Linked DNA regions of Homo sapiens. Changing the gene in region 1 together with any one later gene gives a genetic interaction. Each region holds a gene or a part of one and is shown in the gene's direction. Other genes may lie near its edges.

Evidence for each region. A genetic interaction does not mean that the proteins touch.
Region 2: changes in ALPL (region 1) and MAPKAPK2 together harm fitness more than expected from each alone (negative genetic interaction), as found in Homo sapiens cells (one large-scale study listed by BioGRID).
Region 3: changes in ALPL (region 1) and EDA together harm fitness less than expected from each alone (positive genetic interaction), as found in Homo sapiens cells (one large-scale study listed by BioGRID).
Region 4: changes in ALPL (region 1) and CDC25A together harm fitness more than expected from each alone (negative genetic interaction), as found in Homo sapiens cells (one large-scale study listed by BioGRID).

Annotation. Positions count from the first base shown.
Region 1 is NC_000001.11:21,508,122-21,512,868, forward strand, and holds the start of ALPL (alkaline phosphatase, tissue-nonspecific isozyme isoform 1 preproprotein), read left to right. Parts: upstream 1-1,301; 5' UTR 1,302-1,396; intron 1,397-4,747. UniProt on the Homo sapiens protein: Alkaline phosphatase that metabolizes various phosphate compounds and plays a key role in skeletal mineralization and adaptive thermogenesis.
Region 2 is NC_000001.11:206,729,582-206,732,342, forward strand, and holds part of MAPKAPK2 (MAP kinase-activated protein kinase 2), read left to right. Parts: intron 1-390; coding exon 391-517; intron 518-1,106; coding exon 1,107-1,182; intron 1,183-1,556; coding exon 1,557-1,681; intron 1,682-2,058; coding exon 2,059-2,144; intron 2,145-2,257; coding exon 2,258-2,338; intron 2,339-2,456; coding exon of another isoform or gene 2,457-2,510; exon of another isoform or gene 2,511-2,761. UniProt on the Homo sapiens protein: Stress-activated serine/threonine-protein kinase involved in cytokine production, endocytosis, reorganization of the cytoskeleton, cell migration, cell cycle control, chromatin remodeling, DNA damage response and transcriptional regulation.
Region 3 is NC_000023.11:70,024,790-70,028,612, forward strand, and holds part of EDA (ectodysplasin-A), read left to right. Parts: intron 1-3,067; coding exon 3,068-3,247; intron 3,248-3,823. UniProt on the Homo sapiens protein: Cytokine which is involved in epithelial-mesenchymal signaling during morphogenesis of ectodermal organs. Functions as a ligand activating the DEATH-domain containing receptors EDAR and EDA2R. May also play a role in cell adhesion.
Region 4 is NC_000003.12:48,174,918-48,178,740, reverse strand, and holds part of CDC25A (M-phase inducer phosphatase 1), read left to right. Parts: intron 1-752; coding exon 753-887; intron 888-1,298; coding exon 1,299-1,370; intron 1,371-3,823. UniProt on the Homo sapiens protein: Tyrosine protein phosphatase which functions as a dosage-dependent inducer of mitotic progression. Directly dephosphorylates CDK1 and stimulates its kinase activity. Also dephosphorylates CDK2 in complex with cyclin-E, in vitro.

The DNA of each region.
Region 1 (4,747 bases):
TCTGGGCCTCAGTTTTCTCCTCTGGAAAATGGAGCTTTTGGAAGTTAATGCATGCACAGTGCCTGGCCCTGAGACTGGCATGGAGTGAGTGGAAGAGAGGTTGCCTGACCTGGCTAAAATTGGTTCTCTGGGCAGACATTTTCCCAAGGGCCACTGAGAAGACCCTCCTGTTAGGAGTCAGTGAGCTCTGTCGCTGGAGGCATTCAAACAGAGCCTGCGGACTTCTCACTGCGAAGTTGCCCAGAGAATTCAGTGCTCAGAGGAAAGGGAGTGGTTATTCCATCAGAGCTGGTTCCCCAGGAGCGGGAGCAGGGCCTGTAGCACCCAGCCTCTGTCCCTGGCTCCCGTCTATCCGGGATTTTAGCGTTTCCTCTGTAGTTTTCAAGCACTGTCTCATATGACTCTCGCACCAGCGAGAGGCCAGGGGAGATGGTGTCTGCCTGTTAAAGAGGGGCAGGCTGGTCCACATAGGTCAAGTGACTTGGCCAAGGTCACCAGAGCAGAGTTTTGAACTTGAGCTGTCTGACTCAACTGCCTGGGAAGTGCCTGCCCCTCCTCTGGCATCCAGGGAGCATGTCCTGGGGCTCTGGCTGGGACATAGCCGGACACCTGCGGGCCCTTTACGTCTCTAAAGAGAGAAAGAGGGAAGGGCCCCTGTCTAGGGGGTGGTTTCCCTCCAGATGCCACCCCTCCGAGGTCCCCTTCTGCTTCTTCTTGCGGTAGCCAGGGAGGCAGCCCACGGGCAGGGAAGCGGGGGTGGGGGTGCAGAGTCAGAGGTGCACGTGGACAGAGACAGAGAGACAGGGACACGTGGGCAGAGACGGATAAAGACAGAGACCCAGAGAAAGCCAGATATGTTGACAGACACAGAGACAGACGCCAGAGAGGAAGGCAGACAAAGAGACGGGTGGAGACAAAGACTCCCACCAAGAGACGCAGAAGGAAGATGCCGACGGTAAAGACAAAACAGGAGACGCGCGCAAGGAGCAGGTCAGAGCCCAGGCTCGCTGAGAGAGGAAGGGCTGGGCTGGGGCAGCCCGGAGGCAGAGAGACCGAGAGTGCGGGGCGGGCGAGGGACGCCAGGGCCGCGTCACCCCAGCCCGTTCCTAGCTCCGCTCCCGGCAGGGGGCGCCCTGGCCTCGTGGCACGACCGGCCCGCGGGGCGCGGGGCTCGGGCCGGGGGCGGGGCCGGGGCCGGGCTGGGGAGGGGTTGGGGCCGGGGGCGGGGGAGGGGGCGGGCTGCCCGGGCCTCACTCGGGCCCCGCGGCCGCCTTTATAAGGCGGCGGGGGTGGTGGCCCGGGCCGCGTTGCGCTCCCGCCACTCCGCGCCCGCTATCCTGGCTCCGTGCTCCCACGCGCTTGTGCCTGGACGGACCCTCGCCAGTGCTCTGCGCAGGTAAGGATTCGACGCTGCCCCGCGCCCTGGTTCCCCAGGGCCCCAGCGGACGTGGTCCATCCCCTTCTGCATCCTCCGCTGGCCCCGTGGTTGAACTTTAATGGCAGGGCCGGGGTCTCCAGCGCCACGCCGCCCACAGCAGCCCATTCGGGACGCCCTGCAATTGGTCCTGCCCCTGTCCTCCCGCGCATCCCAAGCTCCCGGCGCGCGCTCTGGGCGGGACAGGAGATTGGACGTGGCGCCCGCGGAGCCGGCGAACTCAGGGGACCGCGCTCGGGACCGCCCTGCAGTCCCAGGGTCTCCTACCTCCCGAGCCGCTGCCTGGGACCCTGCGCTCTGTCTGGGCACCTGCCCTTGGTGCCCCGTGACTGAGCCCCTCCTGGTGCCTCCTTAGCCGTAGCTCTAGAGACCTGGGCTGCCAACCCCAAGGCCTCGTGGCCTGGCGCCCTCCCAGGCGTCCCACCTGACCCGGTGGGGTCTAAAGCAGTTTGGTTTGGGAGGAGGAGAGGGCAGGAGGCGCTTGGAATGGGGGGCGTGGCGGGAGGAGACAGAGGACACCCGCGTGGGTGTCAAAGTGTGGGCACCCACTGTGGGCACCGCAGCTGTGGGGCAAAGCTCTGGAGCCCGCGAAGCCGAAGGAGCCTGCCGCCCCCTTTAGGCTTTGCGAGGTGGGCCTCCCAGGGCTGCTTCCCTGCCCAGTCTTGGTAAGAAAGGGTTAAACGCAGGTCTCAGCAGAAAGGCAGGAGGCCGAGGAAAGCCTCCCCCACTCCCCATTGTGCCTTATGACTCTTTTTCAACACATAATGGGGTCGAAGGCGGGGCCTTTACAAAGGCCTCTGGGTGGAGGGTGAAATTCCTTGAGATCAAAAGAGGGGGCGATTCTTGGGCCAGGAAGGGCTTTGGGCCCTGGGAAAAAGTCAGACCGCTCAGGTGGGCCCAGCTGCCCAGGGAGGCAGGGGTTGGGTCCCAGCCTCAGTGTAGATACTGCAACTGTTTTTTGAAGGCCTACCGTGCGTAGAGGGACCTGCTCTGACATCTCATGTACATCATTTCATTTTACAAATGGGGAAACTGAGGCTTAGACAATTTAAGTAAGTGGTGGGACCAGGGTTTGAATCCAGACTCCAAACTCTGCAGCCCTAGCGTCCTGCTCCCACTGTGTTGCCTAAGAGATAGGGGGCTGAGCCTTGGTTTTGTCTTCCGGCTCCTCCTGGGCTCAGCCCGCTCTTCCTCCACTCTCCAGTCTTGCTCTTTCCAACTGTTTAGTCCTCCCCACCTGTGGGTGTCCCCACGCTGTCCTGCCCCAGCCATCCCACTCCCTGGCCCCATGCATCTTGTTCCTGTGTCACCTTTTTCTTTCTTTAACTGAATACCTGTGAATTCCCTCAGAAGAGGCCCCTGGACACAGCTTCTCAACATCCCAACTGGTGAAGACTAGGCTGAGTGATGATCCCGGTCCATGTGCCCATTTGTAAAAAGGGGTGTATTCCCCTTTCGGGACTATTGTGAGGAATAAAACTGAACTGAGGCCAGAACAAGATGCTATCTTCATTCAGCAAATACTTAAGCATCCGCCGTGTGCCAAGCTCTGTTCTAGGTGCCGGGAATGCCACAGTAAATCAGCCAAAAGCCCTCTTCTGGATTGGATGTTTGCATAACAAAATTCTTTCAGGCTTTGAAACTGTCAGAATTCACAGTGTAGACTTGAAATCAAGCTATTCATAAGGAAGGAGATTAAGACGCAATCACCTGTAAAATGGATTGGCCAACCTTTGGCCCTCACTTTAGCAAAGGCAGCCTTGCTGTGGGACCTGGGATCAGTTCTGTTCCCTCTCTGTGCCTCGGCCTCCTCCCATAAGCTGTGGAGATCAATAGTGCCTACCAGTGGTGAGGTCTAGATATGATGAATGCTTGCGAAGGGTTTAAGCTGGTACCTGTGCTTAAGAAAATCCTGGCTATCCTCAGCTCTCTTCTCAGCAGAAAATGCAATGCGGAGACTGGAAGTTGGGTTATGTGCCTACCCTGCCTCTGAACCTGTTACCCACTTCTGCCCAGGCCCTTCCCATCCTGTTGGGCTACACATGTGGGGTGGCATGGTGCCCTCTTTGCTCACACTCAGATGCCACCTTCTGTCGCCATCCTAAACACAGCCTGGGCTGGGAGCGCAGAGCTCCATGATGAGATCAGCCCTGGAGCCATCATCTCTGCAGCGCTTCCTGCCCTCTGCCTGTTCTTGTGCCTCACCGTGTCCTAGCTCAGGACCAAACTCAGCCCTGTTCTGTCCCATGACTTACATACCCAACATTCCCTGCAAGCTGGATATGATCTTGGAAAGGGGAAGTGAGTTGCCCAGAGGCACACAGATGCTACCTGAGGAGCTGGGGCTGGAGCCTGCGTATCTAGAATTCCAAATCTAGCAATCTCCATGCTGTACCCATCTCTGGGCATATGAGGCCTTTTAATCCAGGGAGTAGGATCCAGTAGCAGAGCCCGAGTTCTCACCTTGAAATCAGTCTGACTTGGCTTTTTAATACAAAACCCAGAGCTCTGAGAGAACATTGCTGGGAGAGTGAGCAAGCTGGGCTGAGAACCAGCACTCAGAAATCTCCATGTGGCCACAGGAATGCTGACTTGGCTTCCCAGCACCATGTCGTCGTCCTTGGCAGGCTGGAGCTGGGCTTTGTGGTATGTTAGATTTGTTTTTTTTCTTCTGGAGATGTCCTCACTTTCAGAGGGCAGTTAGGGGCAGTAGACTGAAGGTTCATTCCCAGCACTGCCATGCGACCCTGGACAAGTCACCTTCCCTTTCGAAGCCTCAGTTTTCTCATCTGCAATATGGGTTAAAATTATATACTTTGCAGGGTCGCAAGATCATAAATGGTTTTCCAACTTTGGGCTGAACCAGCATTGATGTTATTAAGACATTCATATTTCCTGTGGAGCAATTTCAAAAGCAGTTAACTTTATCCCTACCAGGTGATCCTGAGGGCCTGAGGGAAGTCCACGTTTAGGTCACAAAAGCCTACACAGCAGGGAAAACACTGGTTTGGGGGCTGGTGTCTTGGATTCCAATCGCCAGCTGTGTGACCTGAGGCAAGTCACTTTACCTCTCTGAGTGTCAAGCTCATAGGAGGCCCCCAACATCAAGATATGATGCTCAGTGTCTGAAGAACATAGTCTCCGTATTTTTCTGCCTCCTTGTACCAGCTCCCAACCCCCCCGCCAACACTTCGTTAATTGCTCCCAGAAAAACTCTATGCTTAAAGTTTTCCATGCTTAAATTCTCAGCCTCACTGTGGCATGAAATCAATTGTTTGCATTGAATTTGACTTCTCAAATTAAGGGGTAAAA
Region 2 (2,761 bases), about 190 Mb from region 1:
TTCCTGAGCATGCCATTCTCTGCCTTGTAGGGCCTTGCCCTCTCTGCCCATGGGCAAACCCCTAAACCCAGTAGTGAAGCATTCTCTGGCCCCACTCAGCCCTGTGGTTCTCCTCAGGCAGAACCCCTCAGTCACACTCTTGGTTTCTCTGTTCCTGTGGTGTTTACTGCGGGTTCTGTGTGTCAGTCTGTTATCTCCAGGCACTCTGGAAACCCTGCAGAGGCAGGCACCTGCCCATAGAGAGCTGCCACTCCTCGTGGTGGGCAGTGCCCAGGATAGGCAAATGGTTGCTGGATGAGTAGAGGAAGGGAGGAACCAGGATCCTTTTCGTTTCTGATAGCCCCTCCCAGGTCCAGCAGGGTTGCTATTTTTCTGTCTCTCTTTCTGTAGCCTGAGAATCTCTTATACACCTCCAAAAGGCCCAACGCCATCCTGAAACTCACTGACTTTGGCTTTGCCAAGGAAACCACCAGCCACAACTCTTTGACCACTCCTTGTTATACACCGTACTATGTGGGTAAGTCCACAGGGGGCCCAGGGACCTAGGCTTTTCCCAGAACTTTTCTCAGCCCCTCCTCTTGGCTATCTGGGGGGCCGCAAATCCTAGGAGAGTTGTGTCTGTATGGCCCCTTCTGGTGCTGGTTCTGCTGGGACCTGCTGAGAAGTAGGGCTTGTCAGAGCGAAGCTACAGTTGAGAAATTGTAGGAAAGGATCTGCTGGGATCTTTCTGAGAAGAGCCATGGTTTCCATCAGATTCTCCATGGAGTCTGGACCCAGGTCTTGTTCTGGAGCCACAGCTGATTGGCATGGAAGAAGCTTTCAAAGCATGTTCAGAGCATCTGTGAAATTAAATGAACGGCATGGGCCTGAAAGTCTCATGCAGTTCAGGATTTTTAGAATCTTAAGCTCCTAGTTCCAGGTTCCTCATGGAGGAGGATGTTCTGTTCCAGTCCCTGGGCTGGGCTTTGGCTCTTCCTTCTGTGCCCCAACTGCTGCCACCTCATGATAGGCTGAAAGGTTGGGATGGGGAGCATCTTTCACAGAGAAACTGAGTGGATCACAGGGTTCTGAGGGCCGGCCCACCCATGTTGACCTTTGATTTGCAGCTCCAGAAGTGCTGGGTCCAGAGAAGTATGACAAGTCCTGTGACATGTGGTCCCTGGGTGTCATCATGTACATCCTGTGAGTGTGCTGGGGAGGGGGCTGGGTGGGGCAGGGAGTCAGGGCGGCCTGTACTTCTCCAGGACAAGAGGAAGAGGCAGACGTTAGCATTCCCCTTTGTACAGGGGAGTCCCCTGCGTGCCCCTTCTCTCAGTTCCGATAGCTAAGTGGCGGGTGTAAACCAGCTCATGGGCTGGAAAGTGTGCGCCTTAGATACTTGCTATGCTGGATTCCCGGGCCCCGGGCTTGACTTTGTATATTGTGCCTGTGTCAATAAGCCCTGATTTCTCTGTGACCTTTACAAGGAGAAGAGCCTGTTTCTCATCCTGTTCCTGGTACAGGGCCACTAAGTGACAGCTGTTCTGTCTCCCACTTCCTTCCTCCTGTTGATGCAGGCTGTGTGGGTATCCCCCCTTCTACTCCAACCACGGCCTTGCCATCTCTCCGGGCATGAAGACTCGCATCCGAATGGGCCAGTATGAATTTCCCAACCCAGAATGGTCAGAAGTATCAGAGGAAGGTAAGAACCCAGGCTTTCAGGACAAGGGGAAGAGCCCGTGTGTGTGTGTGTGTGTGTATGTGTGTACACGCAGACACATGTATGGGCCTCCATCTCATGTGCGTGGTGTAACTGTGGGTTAGCACCTATGCCCACGCCTGCGGGGTGCGTCCTGCTTCATTTTGCCTGTGTGGAGGGCTGGAGGCAGGGCCAAGGCTGTGGGGCTGTGCAGGGCCTCTCAAGTGGTACAGCCGTAATGGTCCTTGGGGCCAGTTGCTCCGGCAGCCTGCCTCCATGCACCCCCTCTTTGAACCTGGTTTCCCCATGAAAACTGGGGAAAGGAGCAGGCCAGGGAGAGTGACCCCTGAGCTGTCACTGCCCCCTGTCCCACCCCACAGTGAAGATGCTCATTCGGAATCTGCTGAAAACAGAGCCCACCCAGAGAATGACCATCACCGAGTTTATGAACCACCCTTGGATCATGGTAAGCTCGGCAGGCTGGGGAGCCTTGGGTCTCACGGGACTATTCCACAGGACAGAGTCTTAGCCAGGACCCTACCCCAGGCTTTCACTCGGACCCCTTTTCTCTCTTCTCAGCAATCAACAAAGGTCCCTCAAACCCCACTGCACACCAGCCGGGTCCTGAAGGAGGACAAGGAGCGGTGGGAGGATGTCAAGGTGAGGGGCACCACTGGGTGAGAGGGGCTCCAGGTGGGGTGGGCGGCTTGCGGGGAGTGCCCAGGTGTGAGGCGTGGTGCTGGTAGGGGAGAGCTTGATTCTGCCTCTCTCATCCCAGGGGTGTCTTCATGACAAGAACAGCGACCAGGCCACTTGGCTGACCAGGTTGTGAGCAGAGGATTCTGTGTTCCTGTCCAAACTCAGTGCTGTTTCTTAGAATCCTTTTATTCCCTGGGTCTCTAATGGGACCTTAAAGACCATCTGGTATCATCTTCTCATTTTGCAGAAGAGAAACTGAGGCCCAGAGGCGGAGGGCAGTCTGCTCAAGGTCACGCAGCTGGTGACTGGTTGGGGCAGACCGGACCCAGGTTTCCTGACTCCTGGCCCAAGTCTCTTCCTCCTATCCTGCGGGATCACTGGGGG
Region 3 (3,823 bases), on another chromosome or scaffold:
TTCTTTGATTTTGGGCTTAGCTAAAAGGTTAAGGAAATACTCCTTTGATGAAGTTTAGCTTTGAAAGGAATGTGTATATTCTTTCATCTAACACTACATAGGGTATGTTTCTAAGTACAAACGTCTCTGGGCTTTTATATCATGAGGTGTTCTGTTAAAGTAAGGAAATCGAGAGAAGGGAGTCAATCCTCTGAAGTTATCCTCTTGCTCCAGGGGTCATTTTGTACATTCTCTTCTCTGGGCCCAACTTTGTGTAAGTATGCAAGTGTGAGAAGCTCACTTGCCTAACCCTTGTTGCAGAGAAGCAGAGGACCAGCTGCAGAACTGGAACAAAGCAGGAGTTTTTTTTTTTCTCAAATGCCTTCTAACATTTTCATAAGTGAACATTCTCTGTTTTCACTGCAACCATTAGTCTCTTGGACTGGAGGAGTTTCTGGCTCTAATTCTTCCAAAATTACATTAGCAATTACAGGAGACTCACATTCTTGAAGGTGAAGTTTGTGCTACCCACAGAACACCCTCTAGCTTGAAAATCACTGTTAGGCTTGGAAATCTTGGAACACAGGACAGCCTAATATGCACCAACTTCTGTGTCTGTGCCACCTAGAAAATAAGGAGGGAGAAGCAAACCTTACAACCAGGCTAAGAAAGCTTCCTGACTGCAAGGGGTAAGCCACCCCTCCTTATAGAAACTCAGTCTCATGAGGAAACAGAGAAATCATTGAGGCCAAGCTCCTTGTTTCACAGATGTAGAAACTAAGGCTCAAGGAGAGGAAGGGATTTGCCCAAAGTGTGTCTGTGGCAGAGCTGGGGCTTACATCCTTATCTCCTGAGTACAGATTTTGTGTTCTTTCCACTACACTAGCTGGAATTGAAACTTGGGCTCTGAATAAGCCTGATTTGGAAGCTGCCCAAATCTGAAAGGAGATGGTTTTCCTGTTCAGCATCTTGAAATTGGCTAGATCTAGAAACGGGGCAGATCCAATCTTTTGCTGCTAAGTGCAGAGAAACCTCTAAAGCTCATGCCTCTAGGTCTTTAAGGCTACAGGGACTCTTCTGGGAGAGATGTTCTCTGGACCTTCCTTTCCTTCCTTTCTGAGGAAGAGACCCCACGATGACCCCATGGTTTCATTCCAAATGCAGATGTGGTTAGACATAGACAAATGGCCTCTTGAGTGGCATTGCCATGAGGATTGGGTTTCTTGGCCATGAGGCATTGTTCTTAAGGGAGGACCTGATAAATCAGGACAAGATTCTCCTGCCTAAGTGTCTGGGGAGCAAGAAGTCAGAGTCAGTAAGAAGGTTTTTAGTGAGACTAGAGAAGGTTGTATTTAAAACTAAGAAACTACCTCAGGTGAAGACATTGTGATGAAGTCTGGAAACAGGCTTCCATTCCTGAAACTTTCCATAAAATTGTGAGAAGGTGGTGAAGGAAGGAAGAAGACCTGTGCCTACATGTAGTCTTTGAGTGGAGCTGCACAGAGCAGAGGAAGTCAACAGGAAGAGCTGGAGGTTTTGGTTCAAGACCACAGTTATGACTCATTTAAGATAACTACATCCTGGTGGGAATGTTGAAAGGACTGGAATATGAAATAGGAGGGTCGAGATTGTTCTAGAAGGATAGCAAGGAGGAAAGGGGGAAGAGTTGGTGGGCATGATTAATAATACATTTGAGAATGGGACTTCTGAGGAAAGACTTTGGGAAGCTGGATTATTTAGCCTATAGAAATAGGGGTTGGTGGGTAACTTAATTTCTTTTCATATATAAGGATTATTATGTATATGTATATTCTTCTCTGTCTACACAAATAGAATAAGAGCTTAAACTGCCACAAGAGGGACATCATTTAATATACCAGAGAACTTCCTAACAGTGAGCAGTGAGGGGCAATAAACATTGGAACATGTTACTATGGAGTTTGCAGAATTTCCTTTCCCAGAGATCTTTTAAAATAGAGTTTACAGAGGTCAGCTGAGAGAGTGAAACTTGCTGCCTCCTCCTCAGCTCCCTCTACTCTCTGTCTCTGCTTCTTTCCTGTTTCTCAATATCTCTCTCTCTCCCTCCTCCTCTTTCCGTGCCCCTCTTCCTCCTTCTCCATTCCCCCATCTCCAAAACTCCTTCCCATTCCTCATTCCCGACTAGCACTGTCCCCATCCCAACCCCCATTTCCTGTACATCCTGACTCCTGGAGGAACCTTCCTGGAGCTGATACTGTTCCTAAGGCCAGGCTGTACGGCTTCCTCTTGTTATCGACATCAAGTCCACCAAACTGGGCAGTAAACATAAAAGCTCCACATTCTTCAACAATAGCCCTTTCTAAAAAGAACCACAAAGTGACCCATAGGTCTAATCACTTGGTAGAGAAATTCTCATCCTTTGGACTCAGCTGAAATGTAACCTCCTTTTTGAAACCTTCTCTGACCTCTTCAGCATTTGGTCCCTACCCACTAAGGTAGCACTTCTACTATCCCATGACTGTGTCTGTTTCCCCACAGACACAGACTGATCTCCTGGAGGGCCACTTATTTCTATATGCTCAAACCTAGCTTTGTAAATGCATATTCACAAAAGGGAGTGGGGGGAGGGGAGAGAAAGCATAAGACAGACGGAGACAGGGAGACAGAGATGTGTGATAAAGGTATCCAACTCTTTAGCAGGGCCTCCCAGAGAGCTGACTTTGTGTCCTCAGAAGTCTGTAGAACTCCTGACAGTACACTCATCACAGGAAATAACTACAAATGTAACACTGAGGCCAGGCGCGGTGGCTCACGCCTGTAATCCCAGCATTTTGGGAGGCTGAGGCAGGCAGATCACCCGAAGTCAGGAGTTTGAGACCAACCTGGCCGACATGGTGAAACCCCGTCTCTACTAAAAATACAAAAATTAGCAGGTCGCGGTGGCACGCGCCTGTAATCCCAGTTACTCCAGAGGCTGAGGCAGGAGAATCGCTTGAACCCGGGAGGTGGAGGTTGCAGTGAGCCGAGATCGTGCCACTGAACTCCAGCCTGGGCAACAGAGCAGGACTCCGTCTCAAAAAAAAAAGTAACACTGAATCCTATTTTTCAGGAAAGAAAGCAGGACCTCCTGGACCCAATGGCCCTCCAGGACCCCCAGGACCTCCAGGACCCCAGGGACCCCCAGGAATTCCAGGGATTCCTGGAATTCCAGGAACAACTGTTATGGGACCACCTGGTCCTCCAGGTCCTCCTGGTCCTCAAGGACCCCCTGGCCTCCAGGGACCTTCTGGTGAGTTCCCCTGTCTCTCCACCCCACCAGGTGCCTTTAAAGTACTTTAGGAGAGCAGGAGTGGGTGATCCTGAGAGCAGTTTCAAACGGTGGAGATGGGGTTGGTGTGCAATAAGGGATGCAGATCTCCTAGCCCAGTGTAAAACTAGGAATTGGACAAGCCAGTAGGGCCTGGCCTGCTCTAGCTTCTTATATCTACCAAACTGTCAAGGACAGGCCACCTGTTCTTGCCCCATCTCAACCCTTCTGTTACAAGCCCTCCCTGACTCTTGGCCTCCCTGTAGTGGACCAGTAAAACTCATATGAGCCAGAGACAGAGGCCCTGGTGGTTCACAGGAGTTCCAGTGGGGAATAGATGTAATCTTCTGTGATTCCCAGCATCTAGCTCCACATGCTGATGTTTGCATAGAAATAGGCTATGGAGTAGAAAGTTGAGGACTGAACAAAATGACAAGCCCTAGGATAGTTTCATCTTGTGAAGTCTGAAGTGCTTTTCCCATAGCAAGTAGTCACTAATGGTCAAGAAGTTAGAAACTTAAGAGTCACTCAGGCTGTGGATGAAGCAAACCCAGGCAC
Region 4 (3,823 bases), on another chromosome or scaffold:
GCCATTTTAATTCCAGGAATGGTTTTCTCCTAGGGAGATAGTGTGGTGAGAAGAGTTTGGATTTTGGAGTCAAACAGATGAGGTGTATAATCTTGGTAACCTCTTAAGCACCAGTTTCCTGATTTGCTAAAGAAAAAGGAAAGGATTAGCTACCTTTAGTGTATTGTGAGGCTTCTATTGGATTATATGTATAAAGATTATATCGTAGTATCTGGCACACAGTAATTCCTCGTTTAAAAACTGAGCATTTAAATCCCAAGTCTAAAGAACGAGGATAGATTTTATAGAAGGAAGTTACCCTTTATTCCCCCCTGTCAGAACTGGAGTTATATATAAGTGCATTCTCTAGGCCATTTTATGGTCTTTATAGAGATTTGCATCTGCTTGCCCTAACTCATTTCAGCAGATTCTCATACTGTCACAGTCCTCAATGCTGATCGGTGTTCACTGATGCAACCTTCTAATAAAAGAAACCTTGTTCTTCACAAGAGGCTATCTCTAGTACCCATTATAAGGTGAATTGCTTCTGGCAAGAGTTCTCTGTAAAGGCTACTGACTACTCAGGGCTGTGTGTGGTCATCAAATCATTTATAATCTTGGGATACATTTTCATATAATCAGTAATGGCTAAAATTTTGCTTTGTATAACAAGTATAACATAGTATGTTTTCATCATAAAAACTAGTGACCCATTCAAGGAAATGAAAGTGGATCAGAGCTCTCATTATTAATCCATGAATTTTGTCTTACAGCTTTCCTCAAATGAAAGAGATAGCAGTGAACCAGGGAATTTCATTCCTCTTTTTACACCCCAGTCACCTGTGACAGCCACTTTGTCTGATGAGGATGATGGCTTCGTGGACCTTCTCGATGGAGAGAATCTGAAGGTACCGTGTGTGTGTGTGTGTGTTCCTATTTGTTCTACTAATTAATTACCTCTGGAGAAGGCATGTGATGTGAAAAAGAACAGCAACAGCAGTTCCCCGGGGCTTGCTTAGCTGATATTTTTGTTCATTTGGTGATAATTCATTTAATAATAGGGCTACCAGCCTTATTAAATCCTTTGGATTGGGGGATGGGGGCATCAAAAGAAGACACATGATCCTTCTTACCCTGAAGGAGCTAACTAACAATCTATATGCAAGAAACATGAAATCAGAACGGTATAGGATGGTACATTAAGGATACTTCCTATCCAGGCCTATCTGGTATTGTTCAGGGAGAAACACACCTAAAGCACTTAAACAAATGTTAGTCTCTACAGGCTCTTTTTAAAATCAGTTTTTCTGTTTCTTTAGAATGAGGAGGAGACCCCCTCGTGCATGGCAAGCCTCTGGACAGCTCCTCTCGTCATGAGAACTACAAACCTTGTGAGTTGTTCTAGTGTGTCTGGAGGAAGCCCTGCGTGATTGGGGCACTGGACAGAGTAGTCCTTAGTTGAGTATAGCCAAAGATTGAAATGCATGATAGGATTTGGGGATCTGGGTTTTAGGCCTCACTTTGGCTACCTACAAATTATGACCTTTAGTCATGATATCTCTCTGCATGTCTCCTGATGTATAAGGAGTGTGGGTTAGGAGGGACCATGGTCATTCCTAGCTTTTACCATCTAGTCAGTTTGAAAAAAGCCTATCTGAAGCCTTTAGCCTGAATACTTTACTTTTTTTAGGTTATTCTCATTTATATTCCACAGAACCTAGCATAAAATTAGACAAGCAACAGTAACTCACAGGATTTTTTTTGTTTCTGTGTTTTTTGTTTTTTTTTTTGAGACGGAGTCTCGCTCTTGTTGCCCATTCTAGAGTGCAGTGGCACAATCTTGGCTCACTGCAACCTCTGCCTCCCAGGTTCAAGTGATTCTCCTGCCTCAGCCTCCCGAGTAGCTGGGATTACAGGTGCCTGCCACCACACCCAGCTAATCTTTGTATTTTCAGTAGAGACGGGGTTACATTATGTTGGCCAGGCTAGTCTCGATCTCCTGACCTCAGGTGATCTGCCCACCTCGACCTCCCAAAGTGCTGGGATTACAGGCATGAGCCACTGTGCCTGGCTGGATGTTTTTTGTTGCTGTTTTGTTTGTTTGTTTTGTTTTGTTTTGTTTTTCATTGAAAATACCTACCTGAGGCTGGGTATTTTCAGGTAGATATTTTCGATTTTAAAAATTATATATAATATATATTTTATATATATATATATATATATATATATACTCACACACACACATACACAGTATAGATTTGTGTTTCCATCAGGGATACTTTCAAACAGAAAGCATAGTATATGTAGATACAGAATCTATAGTGTATGTGTGTATATATATTCAAAATCACATATATATACACACACATACACATGCTATAGATTCGTGTTTTCATCATAGGGATACTTTCAAAGTTAGAAGCAAGAATGTGCCTATACAGATATATACACCTGTATGTTCAGAGATATACACCCTTAGGTACACATCTAAATTGATAAGTTCATATTTTTTAATTCTCAATAACCTGAACTATAATTACAGAACAAATGAGCTACAGTTTTTTTGTTTGTTTGTTTTGTTTTGTTTTTGAGACAGAGTCTCCCTCTGTTGCCCAGGCTGGGGTGCAGTGCAGTGGTGTAGTCTTGACTTGCTGCAACCTCTGCCTCCTGGGTTCAAGTGCTTCTTCTGGCTCAGCCTTCTGAGTAGCTGGGACTACAGGCTTACGCCACCACTCCCGGCTAATTTTTTTGGTATTTTTAGTAGAGACGAGGTTTCACTATGTTGGCCAGGCTGGTCTCGAACTCTTGACCTCAGGTGATCCATCCACCTGCCTCCCAAAGTGCTGGGATTACAGGCATGAGCCACCGTGCCCAGCCAAGCTACAGTTTTGAGATCACTTATGGATTATAGTACATTCATGTGCATAGCTTTTGAGAAAATATGTTAACGCAGTACAAATGTTATGAGTAAATTTACCAGGTCATTTTGATAGGCATAAAATTACATAAAATGTGAGAACACTTTGGAAGTGGCTGTTAGTTTTATAGATTTGATTTTAGAGTCATAAGCATGGGCTTGTAAGCTCTTAATAGTGGGGAAATGTCTTCCACAAATGGTTATTACAAACTAACCATTGCTGGGAGCTGTAATGGAAAATAAACTTCACACAAAAGAGGAAGAAAATCCCCGGTCTCTATGGGAGCAGATGTGGGAGTGATCCATTCTACTGGGGACTATCAGGAAGATTTCAAAGAAGTGACATTGAAATGTTAGCATCAACTTGAAAATGAATGGTTTACTGAGATGTGAAAGGACATTCTGTGCAGAAGGAAAAGCCAGGCCAAGACACATGGAGTCGAGAATAGGCTGAGATGCGTTTAGAGAGCTGACTCTTGCTACCACTGGTCAGATTGGCTTCCCTTGGGCTCTGGAAAATTTGTCTTTATTTATTTATTTATTTATTGAGACAGAGTCTTGCTCTGTCACCCAGGCTGGAGTGCAGTGGTGCAAATCTTAGCTCACTGCAACCACCACCTCCTGGTTTCAAGTGATTCTCGTGCCTCAGCCTCCTGGGTAGCTGGGATTAAAGGCACGCACCACCACACCTGGCTAATTTTTTTGTATTTTTAATAGAGATGGGGTTTCTTCATGTTGGCCAGGCTGTTATTGAACTTGTGACCTCAAGTGATCCCACAGTGTTGGGATTACAGGCGTGAGCCACCGCGCCCAGCCTGGGAAATTAGTCTTTAAAAGACCAAGTAGAAAAAAAGACTTTGAACACAATTTTGAAAGGCATTTGCTACTCTGCCCATCCCCACTCCCTCCAAATTTACCATCTTAACT